2 separate regions of the Homo sapiens genome follow, and region 2 is linked to region 1. The links come from fine-mapping of genetic effects on gene expression. A gene starts in region 1. The other region holds a variant in brackets. All regions are shown on one strand. Distances are from middle to middle.

What was found. PIP is the estimated chance that this variant, and not a neighbour inherited with it, causes the effect.
Region 2: its variant is fine-mapped to the expression of KRT10-AS1 in esophagus muscle (GTEx, PIP 0.95).

The regions. Positions count from the first base shown.
Region 1 is chr17:40,815,966-40,821,348 of GRCh38, reverse strand. It overlaps KRT10-AS1 (KRT10 antisense RNA 1), which reads right to left and starts at 2,204. Exons shown (of 3, transcript NR_160888.1): 1 at 2,141-2,204. KRT10 (keratin 10) reads left to right here. Exons shown (of 8, transcript NM_000421.5): 2 at 232-314; 3 at 682-838; 4 at 926-1,087; 5 at 1,175-1,300; 6 at 1,615-1,832; 7 at 2,188-2,562; 8 at 2,867-3,232. The coding sequence ends at 2,873. RefSeq lists an enhancer at 495-1,694.
Region 2 is chr17:40,779,962-40,785,344 of GRCh38, reverse strand. KRT27 (keratin 27) reads left to right here and starts at 2,795. Exons shown (of 8, transcript NM_181537.4): 1 at 2,795-3,295; 2 at 4,075-4,157; 3 at 4,889-5,045. The coding sequence starts at 2,852. The variant A/G (reference allele first, on the strand shown) is at 2,058.

The DNA.
Region 1 (5,383 bases):
TTTCAGAAAGGAATAATTCGTGTACAGAAATACAAGACTGGAGAAATTCCAAGAGAACAAATAATTCAAAGTTAAGTATATGGGTAAGCCTGCAATATTTCATATTTAAAATAAAAAATTTTCCCAAGATTTTGTAAGAGAACAACATAAAAGTGCAGAGTGCATCTATGTCACTACAAAAGCCATATCTGCATCTGACCTCTTCTCAAATAACTGTGCCTCTCCCTCCAGATTCTCAACCTAACAACTGATAATGCCAACATCCTGCTTCAGATCGACAATGCCAGGCTGGCAGCTGATGACTTCAGGCTGAAGTAAGTTAAGTGATCGTTGTATAATACTATCACAACGAATACATCAGTGGTTTTTAACAATGACTTGGGATGCCCTCAATAACATTTACATTTTTCTGAATTCACCCAAAGTTAAATAGTATTGGAGTTATCTGAGAAATTTTCCATGTCAGTGTTACCTTTTTGGCAATATTAAAGGAAGAAAATGCATTTTAAAGTAACTGCTAAGGTTTTTTCCATTAAACCACTATTACTTCTAAGAGAACTGTACATGACAAATATTGCCATTACATGAGATCAACTATGTAGCTGCTTTTTAAATAGTCTCTGCCCAGATACATCTCCCCTATATAAGTTATAACCAGTATTGATATCATGCTTGTTTCAGGTATGAGAATGAGGTAGCTCTGCGCCAGAGCGTGGAGGCTGACATCAACGGCCTGCGTAGGGTGCTGGATGAGCTGACCCTGACCAAGGCTGACCTGGAGATGCAAATTGAGAGCCTGACTGAAGAGCTGGCCTATCTGAAGAAGAACCACGAGGAGGTGACACAAAAGTTATACTTTTCCCAGCCAAAAGAGAGTTCATTATGGTCCTCGTGTAGCCAATAAATCTTTCTGTTCCTCAAACAGGAAATGAAAGACCTTCGAAATGTGTCCACTGGTGATGTGAATGTGGAAATGAATGCTGCCCCGGGTGTTGATCTGACTCAACTTCTGAATAACATGAGAAGCCAATATGAACAACTTGCTGAACAAAACCGCAAAGATGCTGAAGCCTGGTTCAATGAAAAGGTAAAGTAATCTTCCTTATAGTGAAACTCATGGAGGTTTTATCATTTCAGAATTTCCTCACCCTTTTCCTTGTTTTTAATACTCTAGAGCAAGGAACTGACTACAGAAATTGATAATAACATTGAACAGATATCCAGCTATAAATCTGAGATTACTGAATTGAGACGTAATGTACAAGCTCTGGAGATAGAACTACAGTCCCAACTGGCCTTGGTATGTTAACTCTCATGAAATGACTTCAACTTTATCATACAAAGTTTCATGCTCACCTAAGAATATGCAATGCAACAAAAAAATGCAGAGTTGGAGGTAAGAAAGAGAAAACAAAGTGAAGCTCATGTTAATGGAGGAAAAGTACTACTAGTGTTGATCTAAAAGTGCTGAAACTGAAATGGTGCCATTAAACATACAACAAATTCTGTTCATTTTCTTATTCTTCTATATAATGCCTTACTAAATAATCAAATAAGCGTCACCATACTCAACTGAACAAGGAAGTCACTAAGCCACAAAAAAATCCGTTTCAGAAACAATCCCTGGAAGCCTCCTTGGCAGAAACAGAAGGTCGCTACTGTGTGCAGCTCTCACAGATTCAGGCCCAGATATCCGCTCTGGAAGAACAGTTGCAACAGATTCGAGCTGAAACCGAGTGCCAGAATACTGAATACCAACAACTCCTGGATATTAAGATCCGACTGGAGAATGAAATTCAAACCTACCGCAGCCTGCTAGAAGGAGAGGGAAGGTAAATTTTAAAATGAAAAGTTATCCCAGTTTCTTTTATTCAATATTCCAGATAGCAAGGCTTATCTAAACCCCAAGAAGATGCCAGAGAATGAGAGGAAGGGAGGAGAGAGGGTAGAGTACAGAAAAAGGAGTACGCAACCGCAATCTCACTTTCTCATGAATTTGGCCCAAAATGATTCTTAAGAGTTCTGTGAACTTAACATTGTTTTCAAAGGATGGGTTTTAAAATATATACCTGGCAGGGTTTTATTTTTTCAACACGTTTTGCTTATTTTCTAAATTAACGGCAACTGGAAAGCTACCCACCGTTTTCCAACGTTAGAGATAACCGAATGTGACCTCACCCCGTTTAGTTCCGGAGGCGGCGGACGCGGCGGCGGAAGTTTCGGCGGCGGCTACGGCGGCGGAAGCTCCGGCGGCGGAAGCTCCGGCGGCGGCCACGGCGGCGGCCACGGCGGCAGTTCCGGCGGCGGCTACGGAGGCGGAAGCTCCGGCGGCGGAAGCTCCGGCGGCGGCTACGGGGGCGGAAGCTCCAGCGGCGGCCACGGCGGCAGTTCCAGCGGCGGCTACGGTGGTGGCAGTTCCGGCGGCGGCGGCGGCGGCTACGGGGGCGGCAGCTCCGGCGGCGGCAGCAGCTCCGGCGGCGGATACGGCGGCGGCAGCTCCAGCGGAGGCCACAAGTCCTCCTCTTCCGGGTCCGTGGGCGAGTCTTCATCTAAGGGACCAAGGTCAGCAGAAACTAGCTGGGGTAATCAGAATTAGTTTTAACTTCCTGTGATGGTTTTTTTGCGCTTTAAGCTCTAGAGTTGTTTTAAAAAATTAAAAATCTTAGAGACGGTTCCGTTTGCATTTGTTCACAAACTACTCTTAACACCAGCCGTGAAAAATGGCATGATCAAAATGTCATACCTTAAGCATTTTTTTGGGCTTAACAATGTAAAGTTGAAATTTCCTTCTTTTTACAATATTTGCTTGTTAATTACTAAGGATCCCTACAGACTGTTTAAAATTTTTTTTCCATCATTCACACAGATACTAACAAAACCAGAGTAATCAAGACAATTATTGAAGAGGTGGCGCCCGACGGTAGAGTTCTTTCATCTATGGTTGAATCAGAAACCAAGAAACACTACTATTAAACTGCATCAAGAGGAAAGAGTCTCCCTTCACACAGACCATTATTTACAGATGCATGGAAAACAAAGTCTCCAAGAAAACACTTCTGTCTTGATGGTCTATGGAAATAGACCTTGAAAATAAGGTGTCTACAAGGTGTTTTGTGGTTTCTGTATTTCTTCTTTTCACTTTACCAGAAAGTGTTCTTTAATGGAAAGAAAAACAACTTTCTGTTCTCATTTACTAATGAATTTCAATAAACTTTCTTACTGATGCAAACTATCCCAATTTGTCAGAATTTATCTTTACTTAAGTACATAATACTCTTTAAAATTAAAGATTAGTAACCCATAGCAGTTGAAGGTTGATGTATCCAGAAATTCGGAAGACAGAACTATTGTCATGCCTTTTCTAAGTTTTTTAATCATGTATGTTCAGACCACCGTCAGTAAATTCACTGAGTAAAGTCTGTAAATCCCCAATATTACTCTTTAAGATACACAATATGTGGAAGGCTCCCAGCTCTCTGGCTTTAAATTATTTCAATCCTGGAAATTCTGGAATATCTCAAATAAAACCCCCAAAATAATAATAATTGGAAATTTTATATTTTCTAATTACCTGACTTCTCACCTTTGCCTTTTCTTACTTTCTTCCAGTTACTATATTACTTCTTCCCAATTGTTATATAGCTTGACATATCTTCTGACACCACCCAAGTAAAATCATATCACCCCCAACAAAATTATTTGATGTCCATCAGATGAACGTGAGAAACGCTGTCAGGAAGTAGTGATGCCAGTGTAACCAAAAGGACACCACTAGGTCTCTGCCTTCCCCAACTGTGCCCAGTGATCAGGACTAAAGACCTTGTACTTTCATAGCCCAGTCACATCCCTCAGCCAATAAGAACCCAACCAACATTACTTAGTACTCTACTGGGGATCCTATGAAGGGAATAAGCTGGCGTGTCCCTTAGACTACCTTGTGTCCTCTGATGAGTTCTTGGATTACTCATGTCCACCAAGTAGCAGCTTTCCTCAGTATCCTTGATTTGAGCTCCAGATCTGAGCCCTGATCCCCATGCCATTTGTTGGCACTCCACTCTGTAGACACTACCCTCTGTACCCCAAATTGATGACAGGAGCCTTGTTTCAATGGGATGGATTTCCCTATAGTCAAGGCTTCATAACCTGCTTAGCACCAAATATTAGCACAGCCCAGAGGCTCTCCATTTTCGTTCCTGTGCCTCTAAATGCCTAAATGTCTAAATGCTCACATGCCTCTGGATATTTGTACCAGCTAACCTTGGGAGCCAGTCTTCTCAGATCCACTATTGAAGTCCCAACACGCCTCACTGCGTAGAGCCCTGAAACACTGTGAAGTCCTTACGTCGCTGTATAAGGACTCTGAACTCCTACTGTGTAAATAGTGCTATACTGCCTGCTGTTCAGAAACACCATCTTTTAAAATATGTATTATAAGGTTAACCAAATCCCCGGGACCTATTGTACTTATAATCTGAGGTTACCATTCACCTTATTCTGAAGAAATAGATTTTTTATATTCAATACCACTGATACGAGGCAAGTACACATATGTTACTATGAGATAGCAGTGCTTGCTGTTAAGTTTGTCTCTTCTACCCATTCTGCCCTCCTCCCCCAGGCCACAATCTTAGCAGTCAGAGTCCTCTATGTGGTTGGATGGTGACCCAAACTTTCATTCCTGAAAAGTCTGCATACATCGTGGTCCTGTCTTCTTACCATTTCAATCTTGCAATACCTCCTTAAACAATTATTTATATTCTCTCTGATAAAGTAAATACTTTATCTCAGATAAACAGCTGCTTTCTTGATTGGACTTGGATAACTATGGTTTGTTTTTGCTTTTTTTTTTTTTTTTTTAATGAGACAAAGTCTCACTGTGTTGCCCATGCTAGTCTTGAACTGGGCTCAAGCAATCCTCCCACCTCAGTCTCTGAGTAGCTGGGATTATAGGCACATGCCGCAGTGCCCAACACTATGGTTTAATAAAGATAATCTGTCTAAATAAGCCACTTGTCTTTAATAAGGACATTGGTATTTATAGTAAAAAAAATTACAGAATTATTTTTAAAAATTATTAAATAGCACAGGGCACTATTTTTACCAAATAAATTTGCATGTACCTATTAATCAAAAAATTCTGTATGCATTCTTACAGATTCTAAAGTCATTACAGAATCCTGCTATTTAAGCAGGGTAGTGCCTAATTAGATTGGCAGAGCCAATTCGGCACCCATGTCAAAAAATATTACACGATAAAATCCTGTTTCCCCAAAGATGTTCTCTTATGATGCTAAAGGCCTAAAAGCTTTGCACCCTAATCTTGGTGCCCATGATGGCTTGATATTTTGCTTGGGAGTGAAGAAATAGCTTTGTTAGGGTCATC
Region 2 (5,383 bases), 36 kb after region 1:
GAGGCTGAGGCAGGAGAATTACCTGAACCTGGGAGGTGGAGGTTGCAGTGAGCCAAGATCGCGCCAGTGCACTCGAGCCTGGGTGACAGAGCAAGACTCAGTCTCAAAAAAAAAAACAGAGAGAGAGAGAGACTGGCTCTTTCAAGGCTCACATATTTATCTTTTCATCTTTTTGTTCTAATTTTGGGGAGTTTTTTTTTAAATTTATTTTCCAATTCATCTATTGAAGTTTTCTTTTGGGACTTAGTTTTTAATTCTAAGAGGTCTTTTATGTGCTTCCTGTTCAATTTTAATGATGTTCTATCCATGTTTTAAATATACAGTATTTTTGTTACTTCTGAAAGTAATAATTATAGGTAGTTTCTTTTTTAAAGTTTTCTTCAACGTTCTTCATTATCTCTGTTTCCCCTGAGTGCTATTTTTTGTTTGTTTGAGTCTCTGTCTTTCTTGTTGGAGTGTTTTTCAATGTATCGTGATATTTTAAATTATGTTCGTTTTGAGTAAGACCTTAAACATTTGAAAGCTTTGTGTGAAGTGTCTGTGTTTCCTTCCAGAGTGGTTGTACAGTGAGCTCCCTTTTTGTGGAGAACACTCAAACAATTCTATCTGGAGGTATTTTCTCTGAGATTCTTCAGCTTCCTCAGAGAGACCCAACAATTCGGGCTGGCTACATAATTTACAAGGCCCAGTGCAAAATGAAAATGTGAGGTCTCCTGTTGAAAAGTCAGAAAAAAAGTTCAGTTAGAAATATTAAAATAGGTCCAGCGCGGTGGCTCAAGTCTATAATCCCAACACTTTGGGAGACCAAGGTGGGTGGTCTGAGGTCAGGAGTTTGAGACCAGCCTGGCCAACATGGTGAAACCCCGTCTTTACTAAAAATACAAAAATTAGCCGGGCATGGTGGCAGGCACCTGTAATCCCACCTACTTGGGAGGCTGAGGCAGGAGAATCACTTGAACTCGGGAGGCAGAGGTTGCAGTGAGCCGAGATGGCACCACTGCACTCCAGCCTGGGCGACAGAGCGAGACTCCATCTCAAAAAAAAAAAAAAAGAAATAGTAAAATATAAATCTTTTTCTTCTAAAAAGTCTTATTATTTATAACATGTAATGAGGTAACGGGTACACATATATAACAGCATAAACTACAAACAGCAAAGAAATAATGTTTTGGTGTCCTAATTTTATGTAAAACAATAAACCATAATACTTTAATAATGTATTAAATTGATTGACAAATCTTTCTGGCTTTTTTTCCGCAAGCTCATTTATTAAGTCATGAAAATTTATATTTTTGCCAACTTCATTTTCAATCTAGGTAATTGAAAGTGATGTCAATCATTCTTGGCAAATGCAAGATCTCAAATGATTTGTTATAATTTTTAGTCTGAAGAAGAAAACCAGGTGGAAAGAATAACATGAACAAAGGCAAAGAGATGGGAAAGAGGGAAGTAGTAAAACAGAACGGACAAGTCAGTGCGGGAAAATTTACATTAAGACAGTGAGGTGGCTCCTGCCTATAATCCCAGCACTTTGGGAGGCCAAGGTGGGAGGATCTGTCGAGCCCAGGCATTCAAGACCAGCCTGGACAACATGGCAAACCCCAACTCTACAAAAAAATACACAGATTAGCCAGGCATAGTGGCGTGTGCCTGTAGTCCCAGATATTTGGTAGGCTGAGGTGGGAGGATCACTTGAGCCTGGGAGGTTGAGGCTGCAGTGAGCTGTGATCATGTCACTGCACTCTGGCCTGGGTGACAAAACGAGACCCTGTCAAAAAAAAAAAAAAAAGAGAGAGAGTCGTAAATACCAAGCACAAAACTATAAGAAATGACAAAGGTAGGGCACAGGAGCTATAAGTGGAAGAGAAAAGGGGAGCAACATGAGATGTAGAAAATTTCTTAGAAAGCAACTGTCTGAAACTCGATCAGACTCATCAGACTGAGGTTGTCAGTATTGAATGTAACCAAGAGGGTATAGGGGAAAAAATAAAAGAAATGATGATTAGAGATGTGCAGTGATGTCTGAGAGGTTAATTTCAGTAAAATAGTGGGACCAC[A/G]ATTCAGAAATAAGAGGTGAAAAGTACAAGAAGCAATGCAGAAAAGTGCTATGGAAATGGACAGCCAATAGAAGGAATGCAGAAATATGAGCAATCTACAGACAGAAAGTGAATATAGAGACCACAGTCTAGACCCTTCACTTTACAGATGTGGAAACTGAGGCCCGAGGAGGTGACCAATTCCTTTACTTAACCTGGTTAGCAATGGAACTTAGACAGAAAACCAGTACAGATGAAATGGTAATTCAGGAAGGATAAGGATCAAAGGAACACTTTCTGTCTCCAAAGAAGATTCCCTTTAATGCCTCAGTTTTCCTTTAGGACCTCCCCTCCTTCTTCTGATACTATGATACTTCATTGCTGAAGAAAATGCAATGCTGATTTGAGCAAGGGAAAGAGAAATCTGTCTATCATACTTTTTTATTCTTATAGGTATTATGCATTCCTGAAGCCTGGAAGACAGGAAGAGTTACTCATACTAAATTTGAAATGCATCACTATAATAATCCTGATAATACTCCACCCTGTCCAACTCCAGAGATAACAAATAACCCCACAATAACTATCCACCTACAGAAATGGACACAGTATGGTAAAGCCATTCATTAAAAAAAAAAAAAAATCACCCCATTATGGATAATTCACAATGAGCTGGCAAACATCATTTGGCTATGAGCAAAGCTCATCAAGAAACACCCTAATAATGTGTATATAAAGGCAAACCAAGCTGTTTGAGTAGGCCGTTCACCATCAGAGCATCACCGCAGAAACAAAGGCTCCAGCCTCCGGACACCATGTCTGTGCGCTTTTCTTCTACCTCCAGGAGACTTGGCTCTTGCGGGGGCACTGGCTCTGTGAGGCTCTCTAGTGGGGGAGCAGGCTTTGGGGCTGGAAACACATGCGGTGTGCCAGGCATTGGAAGTGGCTTCTCTTGTGCTTTTGGGGGCAGCTCATCTGCAGGAGGCTATGGCGGAGGTCTGGGCGGGGGAAGTGCTTCCTGTGCTGCCTTCACAGGGAATGAGCACGGCCTCCTCTCTGGCAATGAGAAGGTGACCATGCAGAACCTCAACGACCGCTTGGCCTCCTACCTGGAGAATGTTCGAGCCCTAGAGGAGGCCAACGCTGACTTGGAGCAGAAGATCAAGGGGTGGTATGAGAAATTTGGACCTGGTTCTTGCCGTGGCCTTGATCATGATTACAGCAGATATTTCCCAATTATTGACGAACTTAAGAACCAGGTAAGAAACGCCATGGCGTGAGTGTTAGCACTCCTGAGAGTGTTTAGCCACTCACAGATGCACAAATGTATAAGCTATCACAATAACAGGGCTTTGCCCTCAGCTTCTAAATTTTAGGAGTTCATTTTCAATATTAAAAATAATTTCTAATAAATTCTAATATTTGAACATGGCACGTCCATCATGTAGTATTAGGTATATGCTTTTGGTAATATTAAAATATCAAAAGCTGTCCAGTGTCTCCAGTTATATATTTATAGGCTTTCCCATAGAAAGAGCTTTTTTTAATGCTTGGGGTGGGAAATACAAGAGACCATACCCAGCCAGGCACAGTGGTTCAGCCTGTAATCCCAGCACTTTGGGAGGCCAAGGCAGGTGGATCACTTGAGATTAGGGGTTCAAGACCAGCCTGGCCAACATGGTGAAACCCTGTTTCTACTAAAACTACAAAAGTTAGCCGAGCGTGGTGGCACATGCCTGTAATCCCAGCTACTTGGGAGGCTGAGGCAGGAGAATCACTTGAATCTGGGAGGTGGAGGTTGCAGTGAGCCAAGATCGTGCCACTGCACTCCAGCCTGGGCAACAGAGCGAGACTCGGTCTCAAAATAAAAGACAGAGAGAGAGACCATACTTAAATTACCCATCTTCAAAAGAATGGTCTGATTATTAGAGACAGATGCCAGAAATATTACTATAATTTCATGGGTAATTTTATTTCAAGGAACTTTGAAATGCATCTTAAATATTTCCTCAATCTTAACTAACTTTTCATTTGTCAGATAATTTCTGCAACTACCAGTAATGCCCATGTTGTCCTGCAAAATGATAATGCAAGACTAACAGCTGATGACTTCAGACTAAAGTAAGTAGAGCTGAAGATAAATGGGAAAAAAAAGTTGTCTAAGCATTTTTTCTCCTTTATTCTTCTAAGTTATTTGACGTTGTCTCAAGCCTTTGTTCTTGTTTATTCATGTATTTGTTTTAAACAAAATGCCTGTTAGAATGAGTAACTAGCTGAGCAACAAATTTTACTTGGGAAATTTCGGGACTAACAAAAACGAGTGTCAAAGTCATATGAGAAAGAATTTTGGCTATTCCCATTCTCTTGCTTCAATGAAATGTATTTATTGCATGATAGATGACCTAACTGAAATGTGTTTTTTTAATTAATTAATTTATTTATTTATTTATTTATTTTTTGGAGACGGAGTCTCGCTCTGTCGCCCAGGCTGGAGTGCAGTGGCGCAATCTCGGCTCACTGCAAGCTCCGCCTCCTAGGTTCACGCCATTCTCCCGCCTCAGCCTCCCGAGTAGCTGGGACTACAGGCGCCCACCACTGCGCCCGGCTAATTTTTTGTATTTTTTAATAGAGACGGGGTTTCACCGTGATCTCGATCTCCTGACCTCGTGATCCGCCCGCCTCTGCCTCCCAAAGTGCTGGGATTACAGGCGTGAGCCACCGCGCCCGGCCTGAAGTTTTAAGTATTATCTTAGTAGTTTTACCTCAAAGCTTAGTCTGAGTTGTATGATGATCTAAAAAGTGATGTGCCATGTCTAATGACTAATGATGAAACTTCCAAATACTTTTCTAAGGTTTGAAAACGAGCTAGCGCTTCACCAGAGCGTGGAGGCGGACATCAATGGTTTGCGAAGAGTCCTGGATGAGCTGACCTTGTGCAGAACGGACCTGGAGATCCAGCTGGAAACTCTCAGTGAGGAGCTCGCTTACCTCAAGAAGAATCATGAGGAGGTAGAAGCTCCACCCGGCTGGCTCTCACAATCGCCTCCCTACCAAATTTTAAAACTAATTTCAGATGATAAATATAATGTCTTAAATTAACATTCAAGAAGGAACCTGTCAGTTTCTCCATAAGGCTTAGATTGTTTGAGACGCTTCTATTCATTCTTCTCAAAAGAAACAAACCTCCCAAAAAGTTTCTAACCCTATAGATCTTGTCCATCTGACTCCTTTAAAAATATTCAGGCCAGAAGCGGTGGCTCATGCCTATAATCCCAACACTGTAGGAGACCCAGAATGGAGGATCGCTTGAGGCCAGGATTTCGAGGCTGCAGTGAGTCATAATTGCA